Regions from separate parts of the Homo sapiens genome. Here regions 2, 3, 4 and 5 are each linked to region 1. Evidence: fine-mapped QTL for protein levels in blood plasma. A gene starts in region 1. Each other region holds a variant in brackets. All regions are shown on one strand. Distances are from middle to middle.

Region 1 (5,272 bases):
CTTTTTAAAAATTATTTATGTATTTGTTTATTTTTGAGACAGGGTCTTGCTATGTTGCCCAGGCTGGTGTCAAATTCCTGGGCTTAAGCAATCTACCCACCTCAGCCTCCCAAAGTGCTGGGATTACAGGTGTGAGACACCGCACCCAGCCTAAAAACTTTTTATCCTGGAGACAGTGTCCACAAACTTAATCTGGTATTTCACAAGTTGCTGAGGCATAGGAAACTCTTTTCTTTCTACAATATTTTCAGACCACCAAGCCATGAGAGGTGACAGCAGTAGCAAATCTCATGAGCTCTTCGGTGAGCAGCCATTTCTTAGTGGAAAGGACTGTATCTGACCTTCAGTTCTCAGCAGTTACAAATGTCAAAGGCAGACCTTTTCTCTCCTCCCAGGCTCCCCTCCCACACTCCTGTCCTGCAGCTTCCCTCCCTGTAGATAAGTGAATGCTGATGAGGTGTGACTGGGCCAGGACTGAAGGGTCCCTGGCCCAAAATATCTTCCTCTGCCCGGAAGGCTGGGCTTCTCATCATCTATATCATACTCTGAGGTCTGGGGAAAGGGGCTTCCCCTTCAAAGCTAGCACTATAAATATGTCTCCAGGTTGTCACCAGGAGTCCCTAGATAAACCACCCCTCTGGGAGGGGCATTAACCTTTTATCTTCTCAACCCATGTAGGAACTCAGGACTCAGATGGAGGATGAGGAGAGGCACCTCCCAGAGGCGCAGGTCAATCTGACCCGCTTCATGTTTCGTGGTGTACTTCGTGTTTTCAAGTTGTTGTTGTTGTTTCAGTGACTTATCAAAAAAACAAAACTCTAATATAAAATAGGAAAAAGTATAGATGATACAAAGTAGCATAAATAGTCCTTTATTCTGAAAGAACTTAGTGATTTACCGAGAAAAAATATGCATGTTAAATTTCAAATAATGATACAATTCTTTTTCTCCTTTCTTTTTTCTTCTTCTTTTTTTTTTTTTAGATATGGGGTCTTGCCATGTTGCCCAGGCTGGACTTGAACTCTTGGCCTCAAGTGATCCTCCCACTTCAGCCTCCCGAATCGCCAGGACTACAGGTGCCTGCAATTGTACCCAGCTCGGGACACAATTCTTACATTTTCTTTTCTTTTCTTTATTTTTTTGAGGCAGAGTCTCGCTCTGTCACCTAAGCTGGAGTGCAGTGGCATGATCTCAGCTCAATGCAACCTCCGCCTGCCAGGTTCAAGCAATTCTCCCTGTCTCAGCCTCCTGAGTAGCTGGGATTACAAACGCCCACCACCACACCCGGCTAATTTTTGTATTTTTAGTAGAGATGGGGTTTCGCCATGTTGGCTAGGCTGGTCTTGAACTCCTGACCTCAGATGATCCGCCCGCCTTGGCCTCCGAAGGTGCTGGGATTGCAGGCATGAGCCACCGCGCCCGGCCCAATTCCTACATTTTGAAAGCATTTTACGTTTTCATATCCATCATCTTCTTAGAGATAACATCTCCTTCAGCTGAGCCCAGTATTAACCTTCGCATGACCCCATTACCTGCCGTGTCTGTGCCTGATCAGACCCAACTCCTTGAGGCCAGAGACTTCTTGCTGCTTCTTCAACACCAAGTGCAAAAGGCGCCCAAAAAATGACAGGTGGGGAACCAAAGACCTCTGATATTTTGTGAGGATGCAGGACAATGTTGTTAGAGCTTCTATTTTTGTGTTTTAGTTTTTCAAGAGAAATTTTAAAATATCCAGGTTTTAAAATACGTATTGACAAGTTATTTAAAAAAAAAAAATGTGCCTTTAGGTTGGGCCCAGTGGCTCACACATGTAATCCCGGCATTTTAGGAGCCCAAGGAAGGAGGATTTCTTGAGCCCAGGAGTTTGAAACTAGCCTGTCTTAAAAACAAAAAACAAACAAACAAAAACCTTTAAAACACTGAGTAGACCCAACAAAATACAACGCGTCAGTAAATAGAAAGTAAAAATATAGGCCGGGAGCAGTGGCTCATGTCTGTAATCCCAGCACTTTGGGAGGCTGAGGCGGACGGATCATGAGGTCAGGAGTTCGAGACCAGCCTGGCCAACATGGTGAAACCCCATCTCTACTAAAGATACAAAAAATTAGCCAGGCGTGGTGGCTCGTGCCTGCAATCCCACCTACTCAGGAGGCTGAGGCAGGAGAATGGCTTGAACCCAGGAGGCAGAGGTTGCAGTGAGCTGAGATGGCGCCATTGCACTCCAGCCTGGGTGACAGGACAAGACTCCTTCTCAAAAAAAAAAAAGTAAAATATAAAAATAGCAGTGACCATTTATTGTCTACTCTATGCCAGCCATTTTACATATTTTATTTATTTATGTGTTTATTTTTTGAGACGAGGTCTCTCTCTGTCGCAGGGGCTGGAGTGCAGTGGCACGATCATAGTTCACTGCAGCCTCAAACTCCTGGGCTCAAGCAATCCTCCCCGCTCAGCCTCCTGAGTAGCTAGGACTACAGGCTTTCACCACCATGCCCAGCTTACATATATTATTTATAATAAATAATAGCCAGGCGCGGTGGCTCACGCCTATAATCCCAGAACTTTGGGAGGCCGAGGCAGGAGGATCACTTGAGGTCGGGAGTTGGAGGCTAGCCTGACTAACATGGAGAAATCCCGTCTCTACTAAAAAATATAAAATAAGCCAGGCATGGTGGCGCATGCCTCTAATCCCAGCTACTTGGGAGGCTGAGGCAGGAGAATCACTTGAACCTGGGAGGCGGAGGTTGCAGTGAGCCGAGATCGCGCCACTGCACTCCAGCCTGGGCAACAAGAGTGAAACTCCATCTCAAAAAAAAAAAGAAAAAAAAAAGATAAAACTAATAGATGGATTGCTCTTGTGGTTAAAAAAATTCACAAAAATAACATTACATAGCTGGGTGCGGTGGCTCACGCCTGTAATCCCAGCACTTTGGGAGGCCGAGGCGGACGGATCACGAGGTCAGGAGATCGAGACCATTCTGGCTAACACGATGAAACCCCGTCTCTACTAAAAATACAAAAAATTAGCCGGGCGTGGTGGCAGACGCCTGTAGTCCCAGCTACTCAGGAGGCTAGGGCAGGAGAATGGCGTGAACCTGGGAGGCGGAGCTTGCAGTGAGCCAAGATAGCACCACTGCACTCCAGCCTGGACGACAGAGTGAGACTCCGTCTCAAAAAAAATAAATAAATAATAATATAATAATAATAAACATAACGCAGAGTAAAAAGCAAAAGCCTTTTTCAGTCCTCCCCCAACCCTGCATCCCTCCCCAGATGTCACCAATACTACTGAGTTTGGGGTGCATTCTTCCATGTATAAATGCATAAAGAGACATATCCAAGCCCATCATATATATTAGATTAGTCCCATTTTGCAGATGAGCAAACTGCACCACACAGGGGTGGAAGTATTCGTCGAAGACCACATAGCTGGCAAGAGCTGGAGCTGAGGTTCAAATCCAGATCAGTCTGACTCAGAAGTCAGCACGCTGTCCTTTCGCTGAGTCCCGAGTGTAAAACCTTACTGAGGAAAAAAACCGAAGCTCATAGAAGTCCCAGCAATCTGAACCACCACTGCCCAACACGGGAGAGGCAGGAGTGACTGAGTTTGCAGGGGAGGCTGCGTGGAGGGGAGAGCCTGGACCCACGCGGATCGGGGGCCGCGGGTACCTCCGTCCAGGGCGCTTCCCTCCCGGACCAGCGGCTCTCCCAGGCCGCCTCGCTCCAGGCGCCCCTGGAGGCTGCCCCGCCTGTGCCGCGCCGCGCCGCGCCGTGTTCGCACCGCTCACCCGAGCGGCTCGGAGGCCCGGGTTGCTTAAGTCCCTAGTCTCAGCCGGGCACGAGGACAGCGCCCGGGAGCGACTGCAGCCTCTGACCCCGGCTGGGCCAGCCCGGGCTGCTTAAGTCCCTAGTCTCGGCCGGGCACGAGGACAGCGCCCGGGAGCGACTGCAGCCTCCGACCCCGGCTGGGCCAGCCCGGGCTTCAGCTCACGCAGCCGTCGGGGGGCGCCCGGCGCGCAGCCCGGGGTGGGTGGTCCTGGCGAGTGGGGCTGCGAGGCAGACCGGCCCCACCCCGGGGCCGCCGAGGGGCGCGGGCTGGGGCGCGTGGCGGGCGGGGCTGGGCGGGGGCGGGCGCGAGGGCGGAGTTGCGGCCGAGGCGGCCGTGACCGGAGCGCGGCTCAGGGGCCCCAGTGGCCGCCGCGGAGCGAGGTTGCCTGGAGAGAGCGCCTGGGCGCAGAAGGGTTAACGGGCCACCGGGGGCTCGCAGAGCAGGTAGAGACCTCCCCGGGACCCCGGCCCCGGCCGCCCCTCTCCCGGGTCCCGTTAGACCGCCCGCCCCGCGCGCCCGCGTCGTCCCCTCTCCCTGCGCTGTGCGGTCGCGACCCCGCCACGACCCCGGACCCAGCTCCGGTGGCCTCGGACAATCTTCCAGCCCCTGGGGTCGAATTCCTGGGGAGGGAGTCTGATCCCGTGGAACTCTGGCCCCATCACCCGGGCGGGGAGTGAACCAAAATTCCTCCTAAGTCACATAGTAAAGTTGGAAAACAGACCCATGACCTCCCCGCGCGGCCGGTGCCTCCTGCCCTCTCTCTAGGAGGGTGCTCTCGGACGGTGTGTCCCCCACTGCACTCCTGAACTTGGAGGACAGGGTCGCCGCGAGGGACGCAGGTGGGTGCCCTTGATCCAGCTCAGCCCGATGGCAGAAGAGGTTGACAAAAAAGAAAGACACCTGTTGGGGTGGCCTGCCAGACCCAGGAGTGGAGGGCTCTGAGGGCCCGGGAATTCGGACTCAGGACAGGGATTCTCCATGGCTAGGCCCAGAAACACAGGGTCCAACCACTCTCCAGCAGGGAGACCTGGGGGTGAAGGGGTGAGCCCTGCGCAGGTCTCTGTTCCTTGGTCTTCACTGGGCAGTGTGGAGAGGTGTGGCCAGGAGGAGCCCGCGTTTGTCCAGACCAGGGTCTACTCTGGCACCAGAGTGACCACCTCTGACCTCTCCTTTCCTCGTCCTGGGCCGGGAACGACACCAAATGAGGGACATGGAAAGGGGTGAGAAGCATAAATGTGCGTGTGTTTCTGCAGAGGAGGGGGCATGGGCCCCTGCCGGGCTGCGCAGGGGAGGGTGGGGTGGGACTTTTCCAGAGAGGGAGCCAGGCCTGGCCCGGGCCCCGGGAGCTCACGTCACCCCCACCCCTCACTTCTCCAGGGAACTGCCAAAGCCAAACCCAGCTCGGGATGGGATTATGTGTACTGGGTAGACCCGTGGAGAGGG
Region 2 (5,272 bases), 88 kb after region 1:
CTTCATGTGGGCTGTTCTTTTTACCAGTAAGATGTTGTTCTGCAGAAGTAGTAGTCTGATTTCTATAAATGTTTAAAAAATATAAAGTGCTAGATTAAGTTGCATCTGAGGCGTGGTACATTCCTTACTGTCTCCCCCTTCTTTTTATTTAACTAATTGAGTTTTGAGTGTTCTATTAGTTCTTTCAACTATGGCCTGTCCTTGGGAATTATAAGGAATTCCTGTTGTATGTGAAATTTTCCACTGACTTAAGAATTTTTGGAAAGCTTTACTACAGTATCCTGCCCCATTGTCAGTTTTAATTTTTTCTGGAACTCTCATTACAGCAAAACAAGGTAATAAATGTTTTTTAACATGGGAAGTACTTTCTCCTGTCTGGCAGGTTGCCCATATGAAATGTGAATAAGTATCAACTGTTACATGAACATATAATAATCTTCCAAATGAAGGTACATGCGTGACATCCATTTGCCGTAATGCATTAGGACACAGACCCCTGGGATTAACTCCTGCCTCTTGAGTGGGCAGGTGTAGGACTTGACACTGGGTGCAATGTCGTACAATATCTTTTGCCTGTTTCCATGTGACATCAAATTTGTTTTTTAATCCTGCTGCATTTACATGAGTCAAAGCATGAAATTTTTGTGCTTTTATGAATGCAGATGATACCAGTAAGTCAGCTGGTTCATTTGCTTTAGTCAAAGGCCCTGGTAAATTAGTGTGTGCTCGAATATGAGTAATATAAAATGGGAAATTTCTTTTTCTTACAGTTTGTTGTAATAAATTGAATAGCTGGTTTAACTGATCATCCATGCTATATTTAATTAGAGCTGTCTTTACATCCCTTGTAGCCTGTACTACATATGCAGAATCTGATACAATATTGATAGGTTGATCAAAATCTTGTAACACTGTAATGACTGCAACCAACTCTGCCCTTCGAGCCAATTGATATTGAGTTTTGATTACTTGCTCTTTTGGCCCTGTGTAAGCCGCTTTTCCATTGCTGGAACCATCAGTAAACACTGTCAGAGCATTTTCTAAAGGTTCACGTCTGGTAATTTTAGGTAGAATCCAAGTAGTTAATTTTAAAAACTGGAAGATTTTTGTTTTTGGGTAATGATGATCAATAATTCCCACAAAATTAGCAAGACCAATCTGCCATGCACCAGAATTGATAAAGGCTTGTCTAACTTGTTCCTTGGTTCAAGGGACAACTATTTTGTCTGGGTCATTTACACACAATTTTATTATTTGTAATCTTGCCTGACCAATTAATGTAGCTATTTGATCCAAGTACAATGTAAAAGTCTTAATTGTACTGTGAGGAAGGAATGACCACTCCACAAGATCAGTATTTTGAACAGTGATGCCTGTTGGAGAATGTGCAGTAGCAAAAACCAAAAGTTGGAGTGGGGCTAAGGGATCTATTCTATTTATTTGCACTGACTGAATTTTTTGTTCCACTAATTTAATTTCTTTTATTGCCTCTGGGGTTAATATTCTCTTACTATTTAAGTCTGAGTCTCCTCTTAAGATAGAGAACCAATTTTCGAAGCATCAAAAGCCCATTTAAATTTGGTACCAGAAACTGAGGCAATCGCAGGAGTGACTGATGGCCTCGCAAATCTTAACCCTGTCACTTGGGTTAAGACCATCGGAAGTACTACTATTATAAATTTCGTATTAATCCTTGTGTGCCTGTTTTATCTGTTGTTAGTCTGCAGGTGTACCCAGCAGCTCCGAAGAGACAGCGACCATCGAGAACAAGCCATGATGATGATGGTGGTTTGTCGAAAAGGAAATGGGGAAATGTGGGGAAAAGAGAGATCAGACTGTTACTGTGTCTGTGTAGAAAGAAGTAGACATAAGAGACTCCATTTTGTTCTGTACTAAGAAAAATTATTCTGCCTTGAGATGCTGTTAATCTGTAACCCTACCCCCAACCCTGTGCTCCCTGAAACACGTGCTGTGTCAACTCAGGGTTAAATGGATTAAGGGCTGTGCAGGATGTGCTTTGTTAAACAAATGCTTGAAGGCAGCATGCTTGTTAAGAGTCATCATCACTCCCTAATCTCAAGTACCCAGAGACAATACGCTGCGGAAGGCCGCAGGGACCTCTGCCTAGGAAAGCCAGGTATTGTCCAAGGTTTCTCCCCATGTGATAGTCTGAAATATGCTGGCCGGGAAAGACCTGACC[G/A]TCCCCCAGCCCAACACCCGTAAAGGGTCTGTGCTGAGGAGGATTAGTAAAAGAGGAAGGAAGGCCTCTTTGCAGTTGAGATAAGAGGAAGGCATCTGTCTCCTGCTCGTCCCTGGGCAATGGGATGTCTCGGTGTAAAACCCGATTGTATGTTCCATCTACTGAGATGGGGAAAACCGCCTTAGGGCTGGATGTGGGACATGCTGGCAGCAATACTGCTCTTTAAGGCATTGAGATGTTTATGTGTATGCACATCAAAAGCACAGCACTTTTTTCTTTACCTTGTTTATGATGCGGAGACGTTTGTTCACATGTTTTCCTGCTGACCTTCTCTCCACTATTACCCTATTGTCCTGCCACATCCCCCTCTCCGAGAAACGCCCAATAATGATCAATAAATACTGAGGGAACTCAGAGACTGGTGCCGGTGCGGGTCCACTGTATGCTGAGCGCCACTTCCCTAAGCCCACTTTTCTTTCTCTATACTTTGTCTCTGTGTCTCCTTCTTTTCTTAAGTCTCTCATTCCACCTGACAAGAAATGCCCACAAGTGTGGAGGGGCAGGCCACCCCTTCACTCAGCCTCCTGAGTAGCTGGGATTGCAGGTGCGCGCCACCATGTCTGGCTAATTTTTGTGTTTTTAGTAGAGGCGGGGTTTCACCCTGTTGGCCAGGTTGGTCTTGAACTCCTGACCTCAGGTGATCCACCCATCTGGGCCTCCCAAAGTTCTGAGATTACAGGCATGAGTCACCGTGCCCAGCCCATTTATCCTTGATATAGCTAAATTACTGAGCATTAGGAAGGGTGGAACTTTCAGCCTGTAAAATATGAGTGAGGTTTCACAAAAACTAGCACAATGTCTGGGGCCCAGATTATTCTATTTGTGACTGGGCGGGAAGAGGTATATATATAGTAATTTTTGTATTTTTAGTAGAGACGGGGTTTCACCATGTTGGCCAGGCTGGTCTTGAACTCCTGACGTTAAGTGATCCATCTGCCTCCCAAAGTGCTGGGATTACAGGTGTGAGCCACCACTTTGGGCCATAGATCGGGTGATTGGGGGAAGACCTGAGGTATCTGAGCAGAAATCTGGTTGGGGAGTGAGCCAACAGTTATCTGGAGGGAAACTGGTTCAGGCAGAGGGAAGAGCAAATCCAAAGCTCCTAAAGCAAAAGCATATTTTTGGTGTATTTGAGAAACAGCAAGAAGGTCAATGTAGCTAAGAGCCGGAATAAGAGAAGAGATGCAGGCAGGGATGAGATTGTTTTTGGCTTCTTAGGTCATGGTAAGAACTTGGATTTTATTTTTTGTGTAATGGGCACCCATCAGATGGTGTTGAGGAGGGGACTGACACAAAATCATTTAGGTATTAAACTGATCCTTCCGCTGCTCCATGGGGACCCAGAGTGGAAGTAGTAGCAGGAAACCAATTAGGCTTTTACAATAGTTCAGGTAAGAGATGACAGTGACTTGGACTAGGGTGTAGTAGCTATGGAGATGGTTGAAAATGGCTAGATGTGGGATCTATTTTAAAGGTACCACCAACAGCATTTGCAGACTCAAGGATGATTTCAAAGTTTTGGGTCTGAGCAACTAGGTGAATGATAACATTGTTTACTGAGACGGGGAGGCCTTAAGTAGAAGGTTTAGGAGGGAAAATATAGATTTTGCTATGGACACATTATATTCTATACAGACATAATTTAAAATAGTTACCAGGTCCATCAATTGATGGATAAACTATGGTATATCCATACATTGGAATATTATTTGTTAATAAAAATAAATGGTCAGGCGCAGTACCTTAAGCCTGTAATCCCAGCACTTCAGGAGGCTGAGGCGGGTGGAGTGCAGTGGCACGATCTCAGCTCACTGCAACCTCTGCCTCCCAGGTTCAAGCCATTCTCCTGCCTCAGCCTCCGGAGTAGCTGGGATTACAGGCGCCCGCCACCACGTCCGGCTACTTTTTGTATTTTTAGTAGAGATGGGGTATCACCATATGGGCCAGGCTGGTCTTGAACTCCTGACCTTAGGCGATTCACCCGCCTCGGCCTCCCAAAGTGCTGGGATTACAGGCGTGAGCCACTGCACCTGACCACTATTCACTTTAAATGGGTATACTGTATGGTATGTGAATTATAATCGCAATGAATCTATTCTAAAAATATAGTTATTGAAAATATATAATTATAAAAAGCATTATGAAGCTATTCCCCCCCACACCAGAAGCTATTTTAATAAAAGATTTTAACCTACTAGAAATAAAAGGAAAATTAAGTAGTCAAGAGTTCTAATCCTTCTCTGTTAACCACAGGAAACCTGGCTGTTTGGACTGGGTGTCTGTGTCAACAGACCACCACCAACCTGGAACAGTATTTGCTAATAACAAGCAAAGTATTCCTGAGTAATAATAGCTTCTTGATTGTTGGACTCCCATAAAGCAGTCATTATTAAGCTTTTTAACTTTTTTTTTGTTGGGGTGGGGGTGGTGTGCGTAAAGTATTGCATTATGTTTACTTTAGTATATATTGCCACCAGTTTTTCCAAATCTGATCTTTGAGAATCTGGTATAAACTATGGTTCTTCTGTCCCCCAAATGTGCTTAAGCACAAATACATACATGCAATATTATACGTATTTTAGGATGTACATAGATCCCCTGAAACCAACCAATGCAGCTCAGTTTCTATAAAATTAAAGCAAGGTCACAGGAATTAACAGTGGCTTTTATTTATCCAGACTTCTGCTCAGCACAATCATATGCTCATAAATATATGACTTGACAGTTCCAAAGACCTGCAGTATGGCTGGTTGGGGTATAAATTGGTACAACATACTTTGGAAAGCTGGTGGCAATATATACTAAAGCTGTACATAATCCAAAACCCATGACCTTGCAATCCCTCTCCTAGGTATATATACCCGATTGAAATGCATTCTTTGCGATGCGGGTAAAGAGGGGATGGTTAATGGGTACACAAAATATAGAAAGAAAAGTAAGATCTAGTATTTGCTATCACAACAGGGTGACTATAGTAAAAAATAATTGTTCATTAAAAAATAACTAAAAGAG
Region 3 (5,272 bases), 240 kb after region 1:
TGCGATTGCAGGCACGCGCCGCCACGCCTGACTGGTTTTGGTGGAGACGGGGTTTCGCTGTGTTGGCCGGGCCAGTCTCCAGCCCCTAACCGCAAGTGATCCGCCAGCCTCGGCCTCCCGAGGTGCCGGGATTGCAGACGGAGTCTCGTTCACTCAGTGCTCAATGGTGCCCAGGCTGAAGTGCAGTGGTGTGATCTCGGCTCGCTACAACCTCCACCTCCCAGCCGCCTGCCTTGGCCTCCCAAAGTGCCGAGATTGCAGCCTCTGCCCGGCCGCCACCCTGTCTGGGAAGTGAGGAGTGTCTCTGCCTGGCCGCCCATCGTCTGGGATGTGAGGAGCCCCTCTGCCTGGCTGCCCAGTCTGGAAAGTGAGGAGCGTCTCCGCCCGGCCGCCATCCCATCTAGGAAGTGAGGAGCGCCTCTTCCCGGCCGCCATCCCATCTAGGAAGTGAGGAGCGCCTCTTCCCGGCCGCCATCCCATCTAGGAAGTGAGGAGCGCCTCTTCCCGGCCGCCATCCCATCTAGGAAGTGAGGAGCGCCTCTTCCCGGCCGCCATCACATCTAGGAAGTGAGGAGCGTCTCTGCCCGGCCGCCCATCGTCTGAGATGTGGGGAGCGCCTCTGCCCCGCCGCCCCATCTGGGATGTGAGGAGCGCCTCTGCCCGGCCGAGACCCCCTCTGGGAGGTGAGGAGCGTCTCTGCCCGGCCGCCACGTCTGAGAAGTGAGGAGCCCCTCCGCCCGGCAGCCGCCCCGTCTGAGAAGTGAGGAGCCTCTCCGCCCGGCAGCCACCCCATCTGGGAAGTGAGGAGCGTCTCCGCCCGGCAGCCACCCCGTCCGGGAGGGAGGTGGGAGGTCAGCCCCCTGCCCGGCCAGCCGCCCCGTCCGGGAGGGAGGTGGGGGGGTCAGCCCCCCGCCCGGCCAGCCGCCCCGTCCGGGAGGTGAGGGGCGCCTCTGCCCGGCCGCCCCTACTGGGAAGTGAGGAGCCCCTCTGCCCGGCCACCACCCTGTCTGGGAGGTGTGCCCAACCGCTCATTGAGAACAGGCCAGGATGACAATGGCGGCTTTGTGGAATAGAAAGGTGGGAAAGGTGGGGAAAAGATTGAGAAATCGGATGGTTGCCGTGTCTGTGTAGAAAGAAGTAGACATGGGAGACTTTTCATTTTGTTCTGTACTAAGAAAAATTCTTCTGCCTTGGGATCCTGTTGATCTGTGACCTTACCCCCAACCCTGTGCTCTCTGAAACATGTGCTGTGTCCACTCAGGGTTAAATGGATTAAGGGCGGTGCAAGATGTGCTTTGTTAAACAGATGCTTGAAGGCAGCATGCTCGTTAAGAGTCATCACCACTCCCTAATCTCAAGTACCCAGGGACACAAACACTGCGGAAGGCCGCAGGGTCCTCTGCCTAGGAAAACCAGAGACCTTTGTTCACTTGTTTATCTGCTGACCTTCCCTCCACTATTGTCCCATGACCCTGCCAAATCCCCCTCTGTGAGAAACACCCAAGAATTATCAATAAAAAAATAAATTAAAAAAAAAAAAAAGGAAAACATGCAAATGAATTGTAGAAACTTTATCATTACAGTTGCACATATTGGCCAGGTGCAGTGGCACATGCCTGTAATCCCAGAACTTTGGGAGGCGGAGGCATGTGGATTGCCTGAGGTCAGGAGTTCGAGACCAGCCTGGCAACATGGTGAAACCCCATTCCTACTAAAAATACAAAATAATTAGCCAGGCGTGGTGGCTTATGCCTGTAATCCCAGCTATTCGGCAGGCCGAGGCAGGGGAATTGCTTGAACCTGGGAGGTGGAGGCTGCAGTGAGCTGAGGTTGCTCCGTTGCACTCCAGCCTTGGTGACAGAGCGAGACTGCATTTAAAAAAAAAGAATTGCATATATTTATGAAACTTAAAGATGAATGTTTTATCAAATTTTCCTTGATTTGTAGATTTAGCACTGTCTTTTATTAGAGGCTTACTAAGATATACAAGAAAAATAACCACACGTTGTGAAAAAGTGACCGGAATCATACACTGAATGCGTAGCCTCATGTACCCTGTCCGTCATCTTATGCCTCTTCTCCACTTGCCTCTTCCTCTTTACCTTCCTCGAAGGAAAGAATTGGTTTCACATTTGTAAAAGTCATTTTAATAGTTAATCATCTCAGAGAGTAACCTGCACTTTAATTGTTGAAACTTAACCAAAATAAGATACAGAAAGTATCTGTATCTGAGAAACAGCTAGGGCTTGTCATTTTTTATATTTAGTATTAAGACAAGAATGCTGGTTTCTCTTTAATCCATTTAAAACAGAGGGAAGCTATAAAAATAAAGATTTTTCTTTGAGGCTGAATTGTCAACTTAGGAAGATTTGTTGTTAAAAATTT[G/T]TTTTTGCACAAAGTAACTCACTTCATCTTATCTGGAAAGATAAGTTGGTCAAGTGTATGTTTAAAATACAAAATTTAGAGGAAAAATAGAAATAGGGTGAAAAAGTACTTGGTAAACAGTAGTGACGAACTGTGAATATTTTCACTCCAGATTTTGTTATCCCTGGCACAGAGTAGATCTTTTGGGAAATATATACGGAAGTGGATTAAGTTTGACTAACTTTATGTAAGCCACATCTAGAAGAGAACAGTTACAAAGAGTTTGGTCTCTAGATTTATTTGTACCCAGCAGATCAACTTTTGCAAAATTCCTTCGCAGTGCAGTAGTATTAGAATTGTGAATGAAATAGGAGTGTTTCGCATATATGCTTATTGACAATCTTCTCAGTATTTTATCTTACTTGTTCTCTCAGAATTTTCTGTCAACTCAACTACTTGATTTGCAGTCATCCTTTGTTATTATCCTTTAACAAGTTTTATCTTATTTTATTTATTTTTTGAGACAGGGTCTTCCTCTGTCATCCAGGCTGGAGTGTAGTGGCACAATCTCGGCTCACTGCAACCTCTGCCTCCCAAGATCAAGCAATTCTCCCACCTCAGCTTCCCAAGTAGCTGGGACTAAAGGCACGTGCCATCACACCTGGTTAATTTTTTTATTTTCTGTAGCGACGGGGTTTCATCATGTGGCCGAGGCTGGTCTCAAACTCCTAGACTCAAGCGATCTGCCCACCATGGCCTCCCAAAGTGCTGGGATTACAGGCATGAGCCACCACGCCCAGCCTGGCCTCAAATTTTAAAAATTTATAGGTTCCATTTGGTAAAGAAATCAGTATCAGAAGTAATGCTAAAATCTTATAATAGGAAAAGAGATCCACTAATATAGCCTATGGTTATTAGATTTGGGCTACTTTTAATCATGGAATAATCTTATGTATTGGTGTAAGAGTTGATGAATGACTTTACCTGTATGAATTAGAATATTCAAACTGCAAACATTTTGCATCCCTTTTGTGACCTAATTTACAGACATTTAAATTGTGCTGCAATTCTGCTTTGCCATTTAATAAAAAGCTGTTTCAGAAAAAAAAATCCAGTTTTGTATTTTATACTTACAGCACATCTCAATTTGAACTTTTCAGTGTCACATCTCAAGTGCTCAATAGCTTCTTGCAGTTAATGGCTACTGCATTCGACCACACAGGTCTAAGCCCTCATCGCTTTTCCAAAAGCAGAGTTCTGATCAAAAGATTTCCTGTTTTGACCAGGTGCAGTGGCTCGCGCCTGTAATCCCAGCACTTTGGGAGGCTGAGGCGGGAGGATTGCTTGAGCCCAGGAGTTCATGACCAGCCTGGGTAACATGGCAAGGTCCCATCTCTACAAAAAATACAAAATTTAGCTGGGTGTGGTGGCATGCGCCTGTGGTCCCAGCTACTCTGGAGGCTGAGGTAGGAGGATTGTTTGAGCCCAGGAAGTCAAAGCTGCAGTGAGTCGTGATCATGTCACTGCACTCCAGCCTGGGTGATAGAATGAGACTCCATCTCAAAAGATATAGATAGAGATAGATAGATAGAGATATAGATAAATATAGATATAGATATGGAATAATATTTTTAAAATATATTATTATATAATTATAGATCTATTTCCTGTTTCAGCACTGTGGCTCACACCTTTAATCCCAGCATTTTGGGAAGCCAAGGGAGGGAGGATCCCTTGAAGCCAGGAGTTCTCAAGACCAGCCTGGGCAACATAGTGAGACCCTGTCTCTGCAAAAAATAAAAGCCAGACACAGTGTACACCCCTGTAGTCCCAGCTACTTGAGAAGCTGAGGCAGGAGGATCCCTTGAGCGCAGGAGGTTGCCACTGCACTCCAGCCTGGGTGACAGACTAAGACCTTCCTTCTAAAAAAATAAAAACAAACAAAAATATTTTCTGTGTCAAAACTCTTCAATACTTCCATATTGCCTACTAATTTGAACCAAAGTCCTTATTCCAGTATTTCAGATGCTGTACAAAACAAAAGCATTGCTCTATCTTTGCAGTTTCATCTTTGCTATCCTCACACAAGAACCTTATACTCTAAGCAACTAGTTTTCCTCATATTTCCAGATCATCTATGCTTGTCACCCTCTGCACTGTTGACTTGCTTAATGATCCTAATAGTCCTAGCTAACATTAATTGGATGCCAATTATATGCCAATGAGTGTGCTAGACTCTTTGTGCATTATTATTTAATCTTCACAACTCTATGAGGTAGATATTATTATCCTCATTTTACAGAGGAGAAGTTAAACTTCTGAGAGGCTAACTTGTTCAAGAGGACAAAACTGTCCATTGACCTAGAAGTGAACCAACCTTGTTTTTAAAGTAGTGCTTTCCCAAAATTATCGTGTTGCCTCTCTCTTTCTGGAATTTCCTTTTCTCATTTCTGCTGCTTGAAATTCTGCTCCTCCTTAATGGCCCATCTCTGAAAATAGCTCTTACAAAAAGCCTTTCTCGGCCAGGTGCAGTGGCTCACGCCTGTAATCCGAGCACTTTGGGAGGCCGAGGCGGGTGGATCACCTGAGGTCAGGAGTTCAAGACCAGCCTGACCAACACGGCGAAACCCTGTCTCTACTAAAAATACAAAATTAGCCGGGTGTGGTGGCGCATGCCTGTAGTCCCACCTACTCAGGAGGCTGAGGTGGGAGAATTGCTTGAACCCGGGAGTCGGAGGTTGCAGTGAGCCGAGATCGCACATTGCACTCCAGCCTGGGCAACAAGAGTGAAACTCCGTCTCAAAAAAAAAAAAAAGCCTTTCTTTATCCCCAACTGGATGTCACTTTTTGAGCTTCTACCAAGCTTTGAGGCTTTGAGGCTCCTTGTGGCAGACACATAGACTGAGCG
Region 4 (5,272 bases), 210 kb before region 1:
TCATTTCTGAAGTTTGAGAAGCAATAAATACCTTTGAATGTTACTGATCTGGCTGGGCGCAGTGCCTCAGGCCTGTAATCGTAGCACTTTGGGAGGCTGAGGTAGGTGGATCACCTGAGGTCAGGAGTCAGGAGTTCGAGACCAGCCTGGCCAATATGGTGAAAACCCATCTCTACTAAAAATACAAAAATTAGCCAGGCGTGGTGGTGCATGCCTGTAATCCCAGCTACTCGGGAGGCTGAGGCAGGAGAATCGCTTGAACACAGGAGGCAGAGGTTGCAGTGAGCTGAGATCGTGCCACTGCGTGGGTGACAGAGGGAGACTCCGGCTCAAAGAAAACAACAAACAAAATATTACTGATCCTCTTTTTCCACAGAACCTAGATCATTTCTCACAGTTTCATATTTCTTAGGTGTGATTGATTAACCAGTTGAATTTTTTCTCGTCTTCCCTGTTGGAGGGTTTATTATCTTCTTATGATTTATATAACTGAGATTAAGGTTATTCATCTAATGTTGGAGCTAGGAGTATAGCCAGGTTTCCTTCCTGGTTTCAAACTCAGATTTATCCATTAAACCACATTGTGTGAGACTAGATCTGAGGTTCCTCTGCAACTGGTCAAAGATGTTACATTTTTTTTAGCATCTACAGTTGGTCTGGCATCCCATGAGTGACATAAGAATTCAGGGATAAGGAAAGATAGGATTATAAATTCATATAATTTATAAACTCATTTCATTTGGTTGTCCTGTATACTGAAATATCCACTTTGATATTTTTAATCAAGATACTATTGGCAGGGCGCGGTGGCTCACACCTGTAATCCCAGCACTTTGGGAGGCCGAGACTGGCAGATTGCTTGAGCTCAGGAGTTCAAGACCAGCCTAGGCAACATGGCAAAACCCCATCTCTCTAAAATATACAAAAATTAGCCAGGCATGGTAGAGCATGCGTGTAGTTCCAGCTACTTAGGAGGCTGAGGTGGGAGAATTTCTTTGGGCCTGGGAGGTTGAGGTTGCAATGAGCTGTGATTGTGCCACTGTACTTTAGCCTGGGCAGCAGAGTGAGACCATGTCTCAAAAAAAAAGATGGTATTGCTCACTGATGAGATTGTTCCCTAGAATTATTTTATTGTCCTTTTTGTTGTTGTTGTTGTTGAGAGGGAGTCTCACTCTGTCACCCAGGCTGGAGTGCAGTGATCTCGGCTCCCTGCAACCTCTGCCTCCCAGGTTCAGTAGCTGGGACTACAAGTGCCCGTCTAAATTTTGTATTTTTTGTAGAGATGGGGTTTCACTGTGTTGCCAAGGCTGGTCTTGAACTCCTGGGCTCAAGCCATCCACCCGCCTCAGCCTCCCAAAGTGCTGGGATTACAGTGTGAGCCACCACACCCGTCCATCCAAATAACTCTTATAGAGAAGGCACTGCAGCCTCAACTTCCTGGGCTCAAGTGATCCTCCTCAACCTCCTGAGTAGGTGGGACCACAGGTATATGCCACCGCACCCAGCTAATTTTAAATTTTTTGTTGAGATGCAGTCTCCTTGTGTTGGCCAGACTGGTCTTTAACTCCTGGGCTCAAGTGATCCCTCTGCCTTGGCCTCCCAAAATGCTGTGGTTCCAGGCTTGAGCCACCACGCCTGGCTTTATTTTGTTTTTTGCTTGCCTTAATGTTCCATACAGGATTTATTTCTTTGCGGGCTATTTTTCAGGAAGGTGGAGTTAAAAGACCAAACGAAACCTACACCACTGATCCTGGATGAGCAAGGGCGCACTGTAGATGCAACAGGCAAGGAGATTGAGCTGACACACCGCATGCCTACTCTGAAAGCCAATATTCGTGCTGTGAAGAGGGAACAATTCAAGCAACAACTAAAGGAAAAGCCATCAGAAGACATGGAATCCAATACCTTTTTTGACCCCCGAGTCTCCATTGCCCCTTCCCAGCGCCAGAGACGCACTTTTAAATTCCATGACAAGGGCAAATTTGAGAAGATTGCTCAGCGATTACGGACAAAGGTATCTGGCTTAGAGTATAACACAGAATTTGGAAAAAGTTAAGAAGCTGACAAGAAAACATTGTTAAATCTCTGTGTTCTAGGAAATTAGATAAATAGGTCATTTAAAGCAGCAGTCCTCAACCTTTTTGGCACCAGGGACTTGTTTCATGGAAGATAATTTTTCCCCTGGAGTAAGGATGGTTTCGTGATGGTTCAAGCACATAGCATTTATTGTGTACTTTATTATTATTATTTTTTTCGAGATGGAGTGTCGCTCTTGTTGCCCAGGCTGGAGTGCAATGGGGCGATCTCGGCTTGCTGCAACCTTTGCCTCCCAGGTTCAAGTGATTCTCCTGCCTCAGCCTCCCGAGTAGCTGGGATCACAGGCATGTGCCACCACGCCTGGCTAATTTTGTATTTTTGGTGGAGACGGGGTTTCTCCGTGTTGGTCAGGCTGGTCTCGAACTCCTGACCTCAGGTGATCTGCCCACTTTGTCCTCCCAAAGTGCTGGGATTACAGGCGTGAGCCACCGCCCCCGCCTTTTTTTTTTTTGGGCGGGGAGGGGGATGGAGTCTTGCACTGTTACCTGGGCTGGAGTGCAGTGGTACAGTCTCAGCTCACTGCAACCTCTGCCTCCTGGGTTCAAGCAATTCTCCTGCCTCAGCCTCCTGAGTAGCTGGGACTGCAGGCATGCGCCGCCATGCCTGACGAATTTTTTGTATTTTTAGTAGAGACAGGGTTTCACTATGTTGGCCCGGCTGGTCTTAAACTCCTGACCTTGTGATCTGCCTGCCTTGACCTCCCAAAGTGCTGGGATTATAGGCGTGAGCCACTGTGCTGGCCTATTTCTATTATTATTTTATTGTAATATATGATGAAATAATTATATAACTCACCATAATATAAAATCACTGGGAGCCTTGAGCTTGTTTTCCTGCTGAAATGGTCCCATTTGGGTGTGATGGGAGACAGTGACAGATCATCAGGCATTAGATTCTCATAAGGAATGTGCAACATAGCCCCCTCACATGTACAGTTCACAATAGGGTTCGCGCTCCT[C/A]TGAGAATCTCATGCCACCGATGATCTGACAGGAGGTGGAGCTCAGGCCATAATGCAGGTAATAGGGAGCAATCGTAAGTACAGATGAGACTGTTGGCTTGCCTGCTGCTCACCTCCTGTTGTGCAGCCCAGTTCCTAAAAGACTGTTGGGTTGGGGACCCCTGATTTAAAGCAATGAATACTTTGAAAAATGTGCTGGACAAGATGGCTCAAGCCTGTAATCCCAGCGCTTTGGGAGGCCGAGGTGGGTGGATCACGAGGTCAGGAGTTCAAGACCAGCCTGCCCAACATGGTGAAACCCCGTCTCTACTAAAAGTACAAAAATTAACCGAGCGTGGTGGTGGGTGCCTGTAATCCTAGCTACTTGGGAGGCTGAGTCAGGAGAATCACTTGAAACTGGAAGGCAGAGGTTGCAGTGAGCTGAGATCGCACCACTGCACTCCAGCATGGGCAAAAGAGCGAAACTCCGTCTCAAAAAATATATATATATATTTATTAATATAATACATAATTTTTTTAGCAGATTTTACTTCCTAATTCGTTTCTACATAAGTGGAAATATTATGAAATTGAGTTTGAAAATTCTCCACATACAACTAAGTGGAGGGAAACAATTTGAAACATTCTGAGTGACTAAGGAAGGCTTGCCTGTAGTTAAAATTTAATGAGACAGTACACCTGGAGAGTTGAATTGATTGTATATTGAATGACCTTTGCCGCCTTTTTATCCTCTCAAAGTGAGGTTTTCATAAAATTCCTTTTTTTTTTTTTTTTGAGACGGAGTCTCGCTCTGTCACCCAGGCTGCAGTGCAGTGGCACGATCTCAGCTCACTGAAAGCTCCGCCTTCCAGGTTCATGCCATTCTCCTGCCTCAGCCTGCTGAGTAGCTGGGACTATAGGCGCCCGCCACCACGCCCGGCTAATTTTTTTGTATTTTTAGTAGAGACGGGGTTTCACCGTGTTAGCCAGGATGGTCTCGATCTCCTGACCTCATGATCCTCCCGCCTCGGCCTCTCAAAGTGCTGGGATTACAGGCGTGAGCCACCACACCCGGCCATAAAATTCTATTTCTGCGTATTTACTGCAGGCATATACTGTGGAGTGCAGGGAGGGGTTGAAGGTGAGATCTATGTATATGAACTAAATAAAGGATAAAATAAAGCAGAACAACTCCTTTCTAAGCTTTCAGAAATTATGAACTTGTTGCGTTAGGTGTAAAGAGTTCAACGGGGAAGTGTTTTAAAATTTGGGATTCTTGGCCGAGGTGGGCGAATCACTAGGTCAGGAGATCGAGACCATCCTGGCTAACATGGTGAAACCACTTCTCTACTAAAAATACAAAAAAATGAGCCGGGCGTGGTGATGGGCGCCTGTAGTCCCAGCTACTCGGGAGGCTGAGTCAGGAGAATGGCGTGAACCCGGGAGGTGGAGCTTACACTGCACTGCACTGCAGCCTGGGTGACAGAGTGAGACTCCGTCTACAAAAAAAAAAAAAAATATTTGGGATTCTGGCCGGGCACAGTGGCTCATGCCTGTAATCCCATCACTTTGGGAGGCCGAGGCGGGCAGATCACCTGAGGTCGGGAGTTTGAGACCAGGCTGAGCAACGTGGAGAAACCCCATCTCTACTAAAAATACAAAATTAGCTGAGGGTGGTGGCACATGCCTGTAATCCCAGCTACTGAGGAGGCTTAGGCAGGAGAATCGCTTAAACCTGGAAGGTAGAGGTTGCTGTTAGCCAAGACCATGCCATTGCACTCCAGCCTGGGCAAGAAGAACGAAACTCCGTCTCAAAAAAAAAAAAAAATTGAGATTCTACACATTCTGTTTTCTATGACTCCAATTTATCTTTCTGTCTTGGATTATCTTGTTTTTAGGCTCAACTGGAGAAGCTACAGGCAGAGATTTCACAAGCAGCTCGAAAAACAGGCATCCATACTTCGACTAGGCTTGCCCTCATTGCTCCTAAGAAGGAGCTAAAGGAAGGAGATATTCCTGAAATTGAGTGGTGGGACTCTTACATAATCCCCAATGGCTTTGATCTGTGAGTTTGTTTTAGTACCTTTTTAAAAAAACAGTTTTTAATCAGCTGAGTTTAAGACTCAAGTTAATACCTTTTAGTAAAGCTATGGTTTTAGTGGGAAGGATGGTACTCATTCATTAATTAAAATTTTTAAATCCAAGAGAGATAAGTAACTGTACACAAGGTCCTGTTAT
Region 5 (3,279 bases), 860 kb after region 1:
CCATATCATTCTTCCCACCTTTCTGTTGATAATTTAAGAGAGTAAGAAAGAAATATGCAACATGACCACAAAACCTACCATTGAGAATCATCACCTCCCATGATATCAAAGAAAGATGGATTCTAGTCCAGGATGACTAAGTTCTCAAATCATCCTTTCCTGACTTGTTTTAACAATTTGAATGAGTGATGTAACCTTTATTTGTATTATATCTTTACACTGCTGACAACTGGACATTCTTCTGGACATTCTTCATTCTTCTTTTTTTAAAAAAGGACAATGTACATAGTAAACTAAAGTCATACTTTTTTTTCTATACTCTTCCAACTTTGCTTTCAACTCCAACACTCAGTCCCCTTCCATACAAACAACTTATTACCAGTTTCCTGAGTATGCTTTCGTGGGCAGTCTACACATATAACTGTATCACAAATACATTCATATCCAATCA[T/C]TACCTGCCTCGCCCCCTTTTTTTGAGACAGGGTCTCTCTCTGTAGCCCAGGCTGGAGTGCAGTGGCATGTTCATAGCTCACTGCACGTCCCAAGTAGCTGGGACTACAGGCACGTGCCACCACGCCCGGCTACTTTTTGTATTTTTTTGTAGAGACGGGGTGTCACCATGTTGCCCAGGCTGGTCTTCAACTCCTGGGTTCAAGTGATCTACCTGCCTTGGCCTCCCAAAGTGTTGGGATTACAGGCGTGCATCACTGTGCCTGGCCCTTACTTTTTTCCCTTTCCTTTTTGTAGAGATGTTGTCTCACCATGTTGCCCAGGCTGGACTCCACCTCCTGGGCTCAAGTGATCCTCCCACCTCAGCCCTCTTCTTTTTCTCCTTTTAACACAAATGATAGCACTTGTCTATACCTTGCTGTTTTCTCACTTAACACATCAGTATATACAGATATGTCTCCTGGTGAGACCACTTTGAGGATTCAGTCTGCCTAGTATTGAAGTCCTTCAAAAATAGAACCCATGTCTATGATTTTCTTTAGTAGGATAACAAAGCTCTGTAAGCTTAGGCTAAGAGACAATTTCCATGCCCCTATTTGGAAATACAGTTGTGGTAGACAATCAGCAGTCACTACTGTGCAAAGGAGACTATGAGTGTAATAGGGTACATATGTTTGTGTGCATATGTATGTGACTATTAAGCACACATGCACTCATCTTATTCTCCATTTTGAATCCTCTCTTATATACTATATACCTTTCACTCTCCTCTAGTGGCTCTCTTCTTGTAGTATTTTAAAACGAAGTCATAGCTTTTCATCTTATAAGGAAAATAAAAGCAATAAAAAACTCTTCTTTGCCACTTCTTCCTCTGGATTTACCTACCCTGGGTCCTCCCTTTTTATAAATAAACTTCTTTAAATACATCGTCTTCATTTCCTTACCTCTCATTCATTTGTTCTGCTGAAATGTGACTTCCACCCTACCAACCAACAAAATGGCTCTCATCAATGTTGCTAAATTAAAGGCCTGTTTCTAAGTCTCTATGTTGCTTGACACCTTCCTGTAACATATGACATTTTGATCACACCCTTTTCTTTAAAACACTTTCTTCTCCCCAGTTTCCTTAAGGTTAAGACTCTTCTGGTTTTCCTCCTAGTACTATGGTGGTTGCTTTATAGATAAGGGACTTCAAATATCCTAAGCCTTCTCTTATTCTCAACAGGGTTGGGGGGCCCATGGTATTTAAGTTTAAAATCTATAGGATTTATATAACGCTGATTCCTAAATCTTTTCTACAACCCAGAGTTCTCTCACAGGCTTGAGATCTATTATCCAACAGCTACACTTGACATCCACAGATACTGCTAACTTACAATATCCAAGCTCATGATCTCCCCCCTCACAAATATACTTTCTCTATTGTTTCTATTTCAGCAAATAGTTCCCTCATTCACCCAACTGCCCAAGACAGAATCTTAGGCACTATTCTTAACTACTGCATTGCTACCTTCACCTAATCCATCTCTACATCATAAATATCACAAATCTTCTGAATATCTCTCAACTCTACCCTCTTTTTATTTCAAAAGCCAATAGCCACTATCATCTCTCACCTAAACTACTGAAAAAGGCCTTCTAGCTAGTTTCCCTAACTGTAGTCTCAATCTCCTTTAATCCATTCTCTGCAGTGCAGGCAGTATAAAGCCTTAACTAAAGCTGAACACATCACTCCAGGGCTTAAAACCCCTTTAGTGGCTTCCCAGTGAATTCTTTTCATGGCTTAAAAGATCCTCCATGATCTGTCCCTGCCTAACTTCCAACCCCTCTGTCTCTTACACCCTACACTGAATCTCTCTCAATTTCTTGAACCTCCACAATTTTGCTTTGTGCCTTGGGCACACTGTTCTTCGTCTTATTTCATCTGGCTCATTCTTATTCATCCCTCAGGTATTGAACAACACTTCTTTCTGGAAGCCTTACTAGGCACCCAGAATAGCTATGTGATTTTCTATATCCTATAATTTCCCCAACACAGTACTCTTCATGTTTTATTGTATTGTTTGCCTTGTTTACTACTAAATCTCTAGCATCTAGACTAGTACATGGCACATTAAGTGAATTCAATAAATTTCTGCAAACATATGCATATTATAATCTCTGCCCAAATTATTTGCCTAGCTCAGCCCTGGCCCCAGCATCCATGTTTAAAAAAAAAAAAAACAAGAGAATATGGGAATTGCTTGGTGCCTAGTACCTGGTGCCTCATGTAATGCTGTTGGAATGCATTGCCATTTTTGAAGACCTTCAGGCAATAAGGGCAGAGCAGATGCCGGGTATCCTCATGGATCATCCGAAAATGGACATCTACCTCAGAGTAGAGTGAGGAGCGATATTGACACACCTGAGTCACATAGGAGGGAAAATAAGGCTAAGAATGAAGTGAACAACTGAGAGGCCTTAAAAAAAAAGGTAGCAACAAAAATTTTTAAATTAAAAAAAAAAAGTTTTCTCAAATGCATAGAAATCAAATTATTTTCCTGACTTTGTAATGCTGGGCTATGTTTGTGATAGGTTTAGCTATTACTTTAAAAATAGGAAGGGACAGAAAGTCTAAGAATAATCCATGTTCTCTAACTAAGAAAAATAAAGCCTTTTCTGTCAATTTCCAAAGGGCACGTTCAGGAGACAGACACTCCCTTAGAATATGCACATGTTCCCGGCTAGTCTACTTGTGGACATGTTCTTTTATGTTTTTCTCCTGCATGGAAACCCTGAAGATAAACTGTGTTTACTATTTCTTCTGTACCTACTCAGAGTTCCTAAACT

Direction of the effects. Positions count from the first base shown, and alleles are read on the strand shown. Strength reflects both the effect of a copy and how common the allele is.
For the plasma level of the protein whose gene starts at base 4,181 in region 1, allele A in region 2 goes with a lower level than allele G (moderate association).
For the plasma level of the protein whose gene starts at base 4,181 in region 1, allele T in region 3 goes with a lower level than allele G (moderate association).
For the plasma level of the protein whose gene starts at base 4,181 in region 1, C is the low allele of the variant in region 4 and A is the other (strong association).
For the plasma level of the protein whose gene starts at base 4,181 in region 1, allele C in region 5 goes with a lower level than allele T (moderate association).

Evidence for each region. PIP is the posterior inclusion probability: the model's chance that the variant is causal. Protein levels are from antibody-based Olink assays in UK Biobank. Linkage for the fine-mapping came from a reference panel and not from the study's own genotypes, which makes the PIPs less certain.
Region 2: its variant is fine-mapped to the plasma level of the ADAMTSL4 protein (UK Biobank, PIP above 0.99).
Region 3: its variant is fine-mapped to the plasma level of the ADAMTSL4 protein (UK Biobank, PIP above 0.99).
Region 4: its variant is fine-mapped to the plasma level of the ADAMTSL4 protein (UK Biobank, PIP above 0.99).
Region 5: its variant is fine-mapped to the plasma level of the ADAMTSL4 protein (UK Biobank, PIP above 0.99).

The regions. Positions count from the first base shown.
Region 1 is chr1:150,545,228-150,550,499 of GRCh38, forward strand. ADAMTSL4 (ADAMTS like 4) reads left to right here and starts at 4,181. Exons shown (of 19, transcript NM_019032.6): 1 at 4,181-4,272; 2 at 4,595-4,668. LOC124904417 reads left to right here and starts at 5,063. Exons shown (of 1, transcript XM_047438226.1): 1 at 5,063-5,272. The coding sequence starts at 5,063. ADAMTSL4-AS2 (ADAMTSL4 antisense RNA 2) reads right to left here. Exons shown (of 6, transcript NR_187269.1): 6 at 3,337-3,523. RefSeq lists a cis regulatory region at 174-893 and silencers at 3,366-3,660, 3,592-3,741, 3,912-4,051.
Region 2 is chr1:150,633,111-150,638,382 of GRCh38, forward strand. It overlaps LOC112268239 (a long non-coding RNA gene), which reads left to right. Exons shown (of 2, transcript XR_007066603.1): 2 at 1,721-2,616. Among named protein-coding and RNA genes, the nearest start is that of ENSA, 6.1 kb to the left of the region's middle. RefSeq lists enhancers at 1,279-1,904, 1,905-2,530, 2,531-3,156, 3,157-3,781, 4,926-5,272. The variant G/A (reference allele first, on the strand shown) is at 2,201.
Region 3 is chr1:150,781,008-150,786,279 of GRCh38, forward strand. It overlaps the pseudogene LOC100132571. Among named protein-coding and RNA genes, the nearest start is that of CTSS, 18 kb to the left of the region's middle. RefSeq lists enhancers at 1-724, 725-1,581. The variant G/T (reference allele first, on the strand shown) is at 2,386.
Region 4 is chr1:150,333,228-150,338,499 of GRCh38, forward strand. PRPF3 (pre-mRNA processing factor 3) reads left to right here. Exons shown (of 16, transcript NM_004698.4): 7 at 1,708-2,014; 8 at 4,933-5,099. Among named protein-coding and RNA genes, the nearest start is that of PRPF3, 14 kb to the left of the region's middle. The variant C/A (reference allele first, on the strand shown) is at 3,056.
Region 5 is chr1:151,408,918-151,412,196 of GRCh38, forward strand. It overlaps POGZ (pogo transposable element derived with ZNF domain), which reads right to left. Exons shown (of 19, transcript NM_015100.4): 12 at 2,708-2,854. Among named protein-coding and RNA genes, the nearest start is that of PSMB4, 11 kb to the left of the region's middle. The variant T/C (reference allele first, on the strand shown) is at 452.